Linked DNA regions of Homo sapiens. The protein of the gene in region 1 purifies or fractionates together with the protein of each later gene. This does not show direct contact. Each region holds a gene or a part of one and is shown in the gene's direction. Other genes may lie near its edges.

Region 1 (3,655 bases):
TGTGTGTTGGAAGGTAGTCAGTTCCTAGTTTGTTCTGAAAAATCTTTGTTTTAAATTTTTTTAATCCTGAGTTTCTAAAAACATGAAGATAATGTCAGACCTGTTCCAAGTGAGAATTATTTCTGGGCATACTTTCATGACAAATATTTGAAGCACTCTAAAGCTCCAAAAGACTTTAGACCTAGTTCATCTTCAGATTATTTCCATCTTAACGTTTCCACCTCTTTGGCCCCAAAATGGGCACCTTTTGTTGCCATTTAGGAAAGGGAGAAGTTTGGGGTTTTTTGGTTTGGTTTTTGTTTTTTTTGAGACAGGGTCTCACTATGTCACCCAGGCCAGGCTGGAGTACAGTGGGCCATTATGGCTCACTGCAGCCTCAAACTCCTGAACTCAAGCGATCCTCCCACCTCAGCCTCCCAGGTAGCCGGGACTACAGGCTCGTGCCACCAGGTATGGCTAGTTGTGTTTTTTGTAGAGACGAAATCCCACTCTGTGCACCGGCTGGTCTCGAGCTCTTGGTCTCAAGCAGCCTTTCCACCTTGGCCTCCCAAAGTGCTGGGATTATAGGCATGAGCCATTGTGCCCAGCCAAAGGAGAAGTTTTGAAGGGAGCTTTTACTTACTTATTTTTGAGTCAGGGTCTTGCTCTGTCAGGAAGGCTGGATCACAATGGCACGATCTTGGTTCACTGCAACTCCCATCTCCTGGGCTCAAGTGATCCTCCCACCTCAGTCTCCCGAATAGCTGGGACTACAGGCACACACCACCACACCTGGCTAGTTTTTTTGTTGTATTTTTTGTAAGAGATGGGGTTTCACCATTTTGCCCAGGCTGGTCTCGAACTCCTGAACTCAAATGATCCACTCGCCTCAGCCTCCCTAAGTGCTGTGATTACAGGTGTGAGCCACTGCACCTGGCCTTGAAGAAAGCTTTTGGTGTTTGGGATAAACATGTTCTCTGCTTTATTCAAGAGCAGATGCTAGCTTAAGTACCAAGACAAATTCTTGAGGGAGCTCAGAGTTTTTAATCTAGGTTGCTTGGCTAAGTAAGAATGTTGGAGATATCTGTTGAGAATATTAATGGTGGTGCTTTTAATGACCTCTTGGGCTAGGAAGAAAGCATTTGAGAAATCGTATTTTTTTTGTTATTCCTAGGTGGGAAACAGTTAAATAAATACGATCCATTCAGTAGAAACCCTCTGTTCTGTGGAGCTGAAAATACAAGTCTTTGGGAACTCAAAAAGGTAAAATAATTTCAAATTGTCTTTTATTCATTTATGCTATATATATATATATATATTTTTTTTTTTTTTGAGACAGAGTCTTCCTCTGTCACCAGGCTGGAGTGCAGTGGCATGATTGTGGCTCACTGTAACGTCCGCCTTCCGGGTTCAAGCCATTCTCCTGGCTCAGCCTCCCAAGTAGCTGGGATTACAGGCGCCCACCACCACGCCCAGCTAATTTTTGTATTTTTAGTAGAGACGGGGTTTCACCATGTTGGCCAGGATGGTCTTGATCTCCTGACCTTGTGATCCGCCTGCCTCAGCCTCCCAAAGTGCTGGGATTACAGGCATGAGCCACTGCGCCCGGCCTATGCTGTATATTTTTGCCCTTGAGGATGTAATGCCTTGAAGTTTTTGTTTTTTTATGATAATTATAAGCATTAATAAACATTAAAAGTCCACATTTGGGGGAAGATACTATGTGAAGTGTTCATTTTGTAGAAAATCTTAAGTGTGCACGTAAAATAAGGATGTCATGCATGGGTTATGACTGTTGCTTTTTGTAGGTAGATTATTGCATATAGAGTTGAGAAAATGGATAAATTTTGCTTTATTTATTAGATACCTCTGAAAAGTTTTATGATAAAATTTTTTGCAAGTAAAGTTACTTTTCTGAATTTGTAAGAGGAATTCATATTTTTAATAACCTTTCTGTGACTTTTTGTGTAAAGCCAGTAAGTATCTTATGCAGCTATTCTCAAAGTGCGGCCAGACCACTAAGAGTTCCTGATACCTTTTTAGTGAGTCGGCCAGGTCACAGCTCTTTCCATAGTAATACCAGTACATTATTTGTTTTCATCACTGTGTTGACGGTGGCACTGATACTATAAAAGAAATGATAGGTAAAACTGCTGCAGCTTATCCTGAATAAAGACAGCACCAAGCTGCATCAGAAGCCATTATATTCATCACTGCCACATATGTGCAGTTAAAAAAAAAAAAGCCAGTATGACTTAAGAATGATGACACAGGGAGAATTACTGATTTTAGTGTCTTGACCTTAAAGTAACATGTCTTTTTAGTATTTCGTGTGCATACATAGCAAGTATGCGTAACATACCTGTGCTGCCTACCTAAAGCATGAAGGTTGTCACGTGTCTCAAGGACAAGTGCTTACCAGTTGTTGCAAGCTCATCTAGCTGCTCTTTCATGAAAGACTGACAAACTGGTTATTCAGGCTTAGGTATTTGGGAGATATTTTCTTGAAAATGAATGAAACAAAAAAGCTGGCAGTATTTGTTGTCAGCAATAAAATTCAAAAATAAAGCTTTCGAGCAAAGATTAAAGTTTTAAAAATCTTGTAACCACCACCTTGAGCTTGACAGTTTCTCAATTTGTAAAACTTTTCTGATGAAATCAGTGGTTCTAACAATGTGATTGTTGTGGTAAAGTATAACGAAATGTGCCAGTGTTTGGAAGGACTGCATATGGTATTTTTCCAATGACCAATGCACAATGTTACAAATTCTTTTTTTTGAAACGAGAAGGTTCTGTCACCCATACTGGAATGCAGTGGCGCGATCTCGGCTCACTGCAACCTCTACCTCCTGAGTAGCTGGGATTACAGGAGCATGCCACCATGCCCAGCTAATTTTTTTATTTTTAGCACAGACAGTGTTTTGCCATGTTGTCCAGGCTGGTCTCGAACTCCTGACTTCAGGTGATCCACCTACCTCAGCCTCCCAAAGTGCTGGGATTACAGGCATGAGCCACTGTGCCACCTGAATGTTACAAATTCTTGAGTGAATAAATGATTGATTCAAAGTAGACCAAATAATTTTAAGTAGCAAGTACCAAAAGCCAATTGAATATGGGTTTCAGATTCCATATTACAACTAATCTTTGGTTTTGGTATAGTACTAAAGAAGAAAATTCACAGCTATGTGAAAGACTATTTTCTACACATGAGGCCAGATTGTATGTTTCAACGTGGAATACAGAAGCAGATGAAATAATCCACTCTCTTCTGTTAAGCCAGACATTAAAGAGATTTGCAAAACTGTAAAGTAATACTACTCGCTATATATTTCGTCCTGAAGCATAATTATTTTTCTTTTTTTCTTTTTTCTTTTTTTTTTTGAGGCAGAGTCTTGCTCTGTCGCCCAGGCTGGAGTGCGGTGGTGCGATCTCAGCTCACTGCAAGCTCCGCCTCCCGGGTTCACACCATCCTCCTGCCTCAGCCTCCCGAGTAGCTGAGACTACAGGCGCACACCGCCACGCCTGGCTAATTTTTTGTATTTTTAGTAGAGACGGGGTTTCACCGTGTTAGCCAGGATGGTCTCGATCTCCTGACCTCGTGATCCGCCCGCCTCGGCCTCCCAAAATGCTGGGATTACAGGCATGAGCCACCTCGCCTGGCTGCATAATTATTTTT
Region 2 (3,655 bases), on another chromosome or scaffold:
TTATCCATGGTTCTAATAGCAGATTAACTCACTTTCTGGGTAAATTAAGGCAAGACTTAAATGCCTCCATTTCGTCTGTAGAGCAGGGATGGTAGCATGATACTTATACAGCCACACGTATGATTACATATGTAATATATTTTGTGAATTTTAGAGCATCTAAATAGCCACTATAAGCACAGTATTGAATTATTAAAGCATTTTGGAAGGAATAATTCTGTTACAGGAGGGCTTTGAAAAGATACTAATTCAGATGGAAGATGAATACATACCTTTTTTTGCACATTTTGGAATTTTGTTGACAGTTTGGTAACCCGTTTTGGCCTCTGGTTTAGAGAAACATATTGTGCACTAGTCTCAGTTCTTGCATACATCACATACATCTGTTTCCTTTACTTTCTTTTCTTTTTAGTTGTTGATATAAGACCCTCAGTAATTACCTGAGTTTTTGATGCTTTTTTGGATGGGTTGTTTTTTTGTTTTTTTTTTTTTTTAATTTTGAACCATTCCATCTTCTCTGTCTTTCTCTATCTTTTTATCCTTTTTCGCCTTTCTTCCCCCACCACCTGGGAGCCATGAGGCAAGGGAGGAAGGTGGTTGCCTTCTTTTGCCCTCTGAATTTGAACCTTCTGAAGAAGTAGACCTCCCCTGGAGGAAAGAATCCTGAAAATAGCAGTGCGCTTTCACTAAATTTCTATGCTGTGAAAAGTGCAGAACTGTATTTATGAAAAAAAAAATATATATATATATATATATATGTGTAAATGTTCTAATTTTAACACTTGGCTAACAAGCAATGTGACCTCCTATGTCAAGAGGAGACATTTACCCAAAGGATCATTTCTCCTTCCCCTCCCTCCCATGAGTAGCCATGAAGAGTCTGTGTTTGGGTTTCTAGGGGCTGCAGTCTGTCTGAGGATGGGGGCATGCTGGCCCAGTGTCAAGGCCTGTCAAAAGAAGTGACCGAGCTCAGTCAGGAAGAGAAGAAATTAGATGAACTGATCCAAAGCTGCACCCTGGACCTCAAACTGTTAACCGAGGATTCAGAGAATCAAAGATATCCTTTGTGCCGCCAGTTCTCTGGGGGTTAGTGCTTCCTAGACTATTTCCAGAGTTGACAATCTGACTTATGCACAAGGTAGATTATTATTCTGATGTCATGCAAATGAGTACCTGTGTGCCTGTGTGTGTATGTGTGTGTGTGTGCACGTGTGTGTGTAAACCCAGTTAGCTTTGCCTAAAAAGTCAGTATTTATGGTAAGATAGTCACCAACTCGATCCTATTATTATCTATTTTGATACCAGGTGGGAACTGTTTTTTAAAGCATTTTTTCATGTGTGGTTGAGACATGGGTATACTCGTAGCGTAAGGCCACACTATTAAAAGATACATAAGGTGTCGGTATTAATATTAATGACAACACTAAGCAGATTCGTCTTTGGCTTCCCAGATTTTTGGTGGGTGTTAGCTGTCACTGTTGGGGTTCTCACATTCTATTTTCTTCTCACCAGATATCGTAGCAATTGAAATTGGTTGAATCTATCTGATTGGGCTATAGTTGAAGGGTTTGAAAGAGTAGAGAAAAATCATACTATAACTCTTAAAGTGCATTCTGCTGATTCCCAATGAAAAAACTGATTTCAAAAGCACCCCAAGACCTGAGAAACCCCTCTCAATTCCTCTGTTCCACTACAAACATTAGTCCTCGCAAATAAAAATACAAAAGGTCAGTTCTTGTTCTCAACTTCCTGACAATCTATTGACGATCTCAGGAAAACTTGCTCTTCATCATCTCACTACAGACAAAGTAAGAGAGAGATTGCCTCATTATGTCAAACAAGACTTGCCAATATTCTCAGTTATTAGAAGACAAAAAACAGTACTGTAAGTTATCCCATCTCTAGTTTTAGTTCCAAACTTCTGATGATTGCACATTTACCATTATTTGACAAAAACTAAAAAGTGTTCTGCCCAGATTCTTCTAGTGTCTCATCTTTAACAGGCTCCCCCTTGGAGAATATGGAGATATTTATTTTCTTCCAATGTTGGCAGTTTTTCAAACCTGCAATTGTTCATTTCCTGTTGACCAAAGAATTAACCTTGTCAGCCGATAATTAGTGAGATGGAAGAGAGGCGTAGTGATTTGGACCCCCAGTGGTTGGCAGAGTGGGTTTACAGGGGAAGAAACCAACAGTTGGGCTGTTTCATTCATTGTTTGGTTGGGAGCCCCATTGTGGAAGAGATGGGTGGTTACATGTGATTGGCAGCCTTCCGGGACATGTGGCTTATGGCATTGTCACCTATATTAGCTCTCTCTGGGGCCTTTGTTGCAGAAAATGAAAGCTTCCTTGCAGGGAACTTCGAACCCAAGGAGTAAATTCAGGAGGGAGCCACAAAGGAAGCACTTTTAAGTTTGTAAGATTAGAAAATACATTTGCACAATTTATTTCAGTTCACCATTCAGTTCCCAAATTGGTACAGCTTGTTCACAAATGTGTTGAAATTTTCCTTCCTGCAGCATGTTGAGTAATCGTAGATGAGTTTTTCTTTTACACTTGATCTTAGCCAAAAGGCCAAGAAGTGATGAGTTTTTATTTTAATAAGTTCTTGTCATACAGCTTTTTGACAGTGAGCTGTAGTGTAAGTACCTGGTTGTCAGTTTTTTCCAGTGTTCTCAGTAAAAAATCAGAACTGCCTGGCCCTCTATAAAGGCATCCGTTGACTTCTTTGATGGGTTATGTAGTGACCTAAAACCCAGAATCCTGCAAGAGCAGCCACTACAAGCTCAACACTGAATTAGCCATCATCTCAACTGTAAAGATTTGAAGGAGATAGTCTGTGATAGATCCCCTACATGTGTATGCAGATTTCGTGTGAATGTGCTTTCTTTCTGGAGTAGTAGTTCCATAGCTGCATTCAGTTTCTAATAAGAAGCTACTACAGCCAGGCACGGTGGCTCATGCCTGTAATCCCAGCTACTCGGGAGGCTGAGGCAGGAGAATCACTTGAACCTGGGAGACAGAGGTGGCAGTGAGCTGAAATCGTGCCACTGCACTCCAGCCTTAGTGACAGAGTGGGAGTCCGTCTCAAAAAAAAAAAAAAAAAGAAGCTACTATCGTAAGGGACATGATTTATTCTAGGGTCTCTAAGCCCCCCCTTTTTTTTATATTAAACATATTAGATCACGGACTCTATTAGCCATTAAATACGTTATACTACCTGCTGAAATGCCTTCATTGGTTTGTTACTTGCTGTTTTATCCTAGGAATTTTTTGTGGGTACATATAAAAAATAATAACGGGCTAAAGACATTGTACATTAATTGAATACTTTTGTCATATCGTAAGTACCATATTCTTTCATGATAGCCTTTTAGGCTTGGCTGTCAGGACATTTAAAAGAATGGTTCAGTGCTTAGAAAAAATGACCAAGGCCGGGCGCCGTGGCTCACACCTGTAATCCCAGCACTTTGGGAGGCCGGAGGCAGGCAGATCACTTGAGTCCAGGAGTTCAAGACCAGCCTGGGCAACAGGGTAAAACCCCATCTCTACTAAAAATAAAAAAAATTAGCCGGGTGTGGTGGTGCACGCCTGTAGTCCCATCTGTTTGGGAGGCTGAGGCACGAGAATCATTTAACCCCAGAGACGGAGGTTG
Region 3 (3,655 bases), on another chromosome or scaffold:
TGTCTTTTTGCTTTTTTTTTCTGTTTTCAGGGAAGCTGTGATTAAGCACTCATTGGTGCATAAAGTATTCTTGGACTTTTTTACCTATGCACCCCCCAAACTCAGATCAGTAAGTTCTTGGTTTTTGTTTTTAAACTAAAACATGGAGGAGGAGCGGTGTAGAAATTTGAAAAACTGCTTTGATGTACGTTGTCTTGTGGAAATTTTAGAGTTGCTTCCTTATTTAGGGAAGATAATTTACTCAACTCCCTTTGAACACGTTTGCTAATTCCATTTAGGTTTTATTCCAGTAAACAATAGAATTGACCCTAGTTTTACTAATCATATTAAATTTTTATATCTTAATTATAATCCAGAGAGTATCCGCTGGCTAACCTAATCTGAAAATTAACTAACTCGTGGAGGAATATTCAAGCATTCGGATAGTTTTAAATTCAACTGTGCTAATACAAAAAAAAAATTAGCTTGGCATTAAAAGGTTAGAGGAGGATATGTTTGTAAAACTAAGTGGACGATGAAAACCTGGACTTTATATCATAGAAGAACAGAGTGAAGGTAAATTGCACTGCCCTTCAAGTCAGTCATGGGAATACAAATGAGAATTCATCATTTAGTTCCCTGAACTTTGCTTGCCTCATCATACAGTGAGCTCATTGTCCATTTGTCCTCATTTTCCAATCACAAGGGATAATGAAAATAATGAGACTGACTTAACAAATAACGCCAGACTATACATTCATTGGAGTTTTGACCCTCTTAAAATTGGCATGCAAAATAATTTCCTGATGGTAGCCACCCACGTAAGCTTATGGTTTGATGACCATAGCAGCACCTTCTGTTTTGGAGATTTTTCTTACTTCCTGAAAAATACAGTATCCCACGGTTCTGAGGCAGGACTATATGCTCAGAAATGACACAATGATTATTTGAATATATTCAGTGGTAGAAAGTATCTTTTTAGTGTTGAATGTTTCAGTAACAGCAAAAAATCATTTGGAACTTAGCATGCGTGTAAAGTAATGAGACAAATTGTCTTTTCTGGTATTGGGGGCATTTTCAAAAGAGACTTAAAAAAAAAAAAACCTTCGGGGAAAATGGAAGCATAATTGGAATATATGCATGGCTTTCCATCTGGATAGCTCTGAAGAGATTCCTAAGTTCAGATATGTTAGTTGAAACTGCTCTTGAGAGTCATCTTGGGAAGGGATTGTTAGATACTTGAGGCTGAAATTGTTTGTTCCTTATTGATGAAATTAGGCACCTACCCTCTCTTTCGTGGCATGAGGCTTTGTATTTATTTAATGTACATTTTTAAATTGGGAATAGACTAAAATGGAGCTCTGCACTTGTTAGTTGCCAGAACTCATTTACATCCTACATGCCTTAGACTTTGAAAATATAGGGCCAGGCACGGTGGCTCACACCTGTAATCCCAGCACTTTGGGAACCCGAGGCGGGCAGATCACAAGGTCAGTAGTTCGAGACCAGCCTGGCCAATATGGTGAAACCCAGTCTCTACTAAAATACAAAAATTAGCCGGGGGTGGTGGCGGGCACCTGTAGCCCCAGCTACTCGGGAGGCTGAGGCAGGAGAATTGCTTGAACCTGGGAGGTGGAGGTTGCAGTAAGCCAAGATGGCACCACTGCACTCCAGCCTGGGTGACAGAGCAAGACTCCGTCTCCAAAAAAAAAAGAAAATGTAAATAAGAAATTATATACATGGAAAATGAAGGCTAAAGGTTAAATTAAGCTAAGCTACCTAGTGAGAAATTAAATGTTTTTTACTAAAGGGTCATTTTATAGGTGAGGTCTTAGTCTAAATGTTAGTATAGAAATTTTTCATGAGGAAATGTTATGTAAGCGTGTTTATGGTAAAGAATGTGATTTTTGGAGATAATCCAGTTATGAACTGAAAAGGGAAGCTTTTCAGTCAAAATGAGTGTTTTGATTCTGTTTATTGCATACAGGTCTCTTTTGGGGAAGAGCATTTTCTTTGTCTCGCTATTCTGTTAAAAGCTCCCTTCTTATCACCACCACCTCCTAGGCTTCTTTTTCTTGGAAAATTATTTAGAATATATTATATTACACATATAGCTTGACCTTTTTTTTAACAGACATTGGTAAAAGTCAGGTATTGTTTTTAATAGATATTGTCTGCCAGCAGTATTTACTGCTCTTGATGGAAAAGAACATTTCTAGAAAGAGCTCGTGTTTCTGTTTGATTGTCTACAAAATGAAATTGTTTGCTACCTGGCACTCTCTTCCTTTCCTTCTCTCTGCATAACTGCCCCCTGTAGACAGACAGATAAAACAGTAGAAAGAAGAAAATAAAGCAGAGCCCTGTTCCTGACAGCATTTGTTCCCTAGGAAATGATTGAAGCCATCCGCGAAGCGGTGGTCTACCTGGCACACACACACGATGGCGCCAGAGTGGCCATGCACTGCCTGTGGCATGGCACGCCCAAGGTAAGTGTGACAGCACTTGGGCATTTAAACTGTACAAGTCAGGGCCATGCTTTATCTGCAGGCTTGACTTAGCTGTCCTTAGACTTTTAACCCCCTTTGGTCTTTGCCCTGTTGTGCATTATCTTCCAAAAGTTGTGCCTTAGAGCCTGATGGGAATGAGCCATCTTCTTTAGGCCTAGTGTTTCTTCTTTCCTCTGCTTTAGTAGAAACCTTGAAGTTTCATTAAAGGATGGGAAGAGATCTATCAAGCAAGTAAACATAATATGTATTTAAGCTTTAGTTTATAGAGGTTTTGGTACCTCCTCTTTTAATGATCATACTGTGGCAGGGGAAAATGGGAAGAGATAACAAACAGCTGGCCACACACATTTGCTCCCATAGGTGTTATGTACTTGAGGGAAAAGGTAAAGATCCTTATTAATCACAGAAGTTTAACAGAAATTATCATTATTTCCTTGGTCAGCATAATTCTGCCTTTAAAAGATAGTTGTACTATATCTACTTTTTTTAATGCAAATTTAATTTTATTCAACAAATGCAGATGAGTACTAACTGTTTGCTAGACTCTGCATTTGAGGACAGTTTAGACCTTGGAAGAAGGATCTGTCTGGTCTCACTGTGAAAGGTGGCTTGCAAACCCTAACCCTAACCCTAACCCTAACCCTAACCCTATCACATACACATCTAAGCTTGTAATAGCTCTAAGCCAACTTCTTTGGTATATTACAGTTTTTTTGTTCTGGCTGTATAACTATTATTTTTACTAATGAAAACATATGCCACTCAAATGAAAACTTAATAAATATTATATTAAAATGTTTAACTACAAAATACCCTTAATACATAACTGAAAATTCAGTGAGACAATCTTTCCTTTTTAAGGACAGGAAAGTGATTGTGAAAACAATGAAGACTTATGTTGAAAAGGTGGCTAATGTAAGTATAATAAAACTACATATTCTAATTATTTTTGATAGTAAGATGAATTCATGTCTATTATAGAAAATTTGGAAAAATTCAGAAAATTACCAAGCAGAAAATTATTGTTTTATTATATTTTTCTTTGCATCTACATGTATTTTCATATTTTATCTACACAAAATGGAAATCATGTCACATGCATTCTTTTCTCCTTTTTTAATTTAACATTGTATTGTGATAGTTCTCTACTTTTATTAGATATTCTTTGA

The links.
Region 2: the proteins of CEBPZ (region 1) and E2F3 purify together in Homo sapiens (pull-down; one large-scale study listed by IntAct). This does not show direct contact.
Region 3: the proteins of CEBPZ (region 1) and PUM3 fractionate together in Homo sapiens (co-fractionation; one large-scale study listed by BioGRID). This does not show direct contact.

What each region holds. Positions count from the first base shown.
Region 1 is NC_000002.12:37,217,972-37,221,626, reverse strand, and holds part of CEBPZ (CCAAT/enhancer-binding protein zeta), read left to right. Parts: intron 1-1,153; coding exon 1,154-1,242; intron 1,243-3,655. UniProt on the Homo sapiens protein: Stimulates transcription from the HSP70 promoter.
Region 2 is NC_000006.12:20,481,864-20,485,518, forward strand, and holds part of E2F3 (transcription factor E2F3), read left to right. Parts: intron 1-898; coding exon 899-1,057; coding exon of another isoform or gene 1,058-1,086; intron 1,087-3,655.
Region 3 is NC_000009.12:2,823,527-2,827,181, reverse strand, and holds part of PUM3 (pumilio homolog 3), read left to right. Parts: intron 1-30; coding exon 31-109; intron 110-2,366; coding exon 2,367-2,465; intron 2,466-3,347; coding exon 3,348-3,401; intron 3,402-3,655. UniProt on the Homo sapiens protein: Inhibits the poly(ADP-ribosyl)ation activity of PARP1 and the degradation of PARP1 by CASP3 following genotoxic stress. Binds to double-stranded RNA or DNA without sequence specificity. Involved in development of the eye and of primordial germ cells.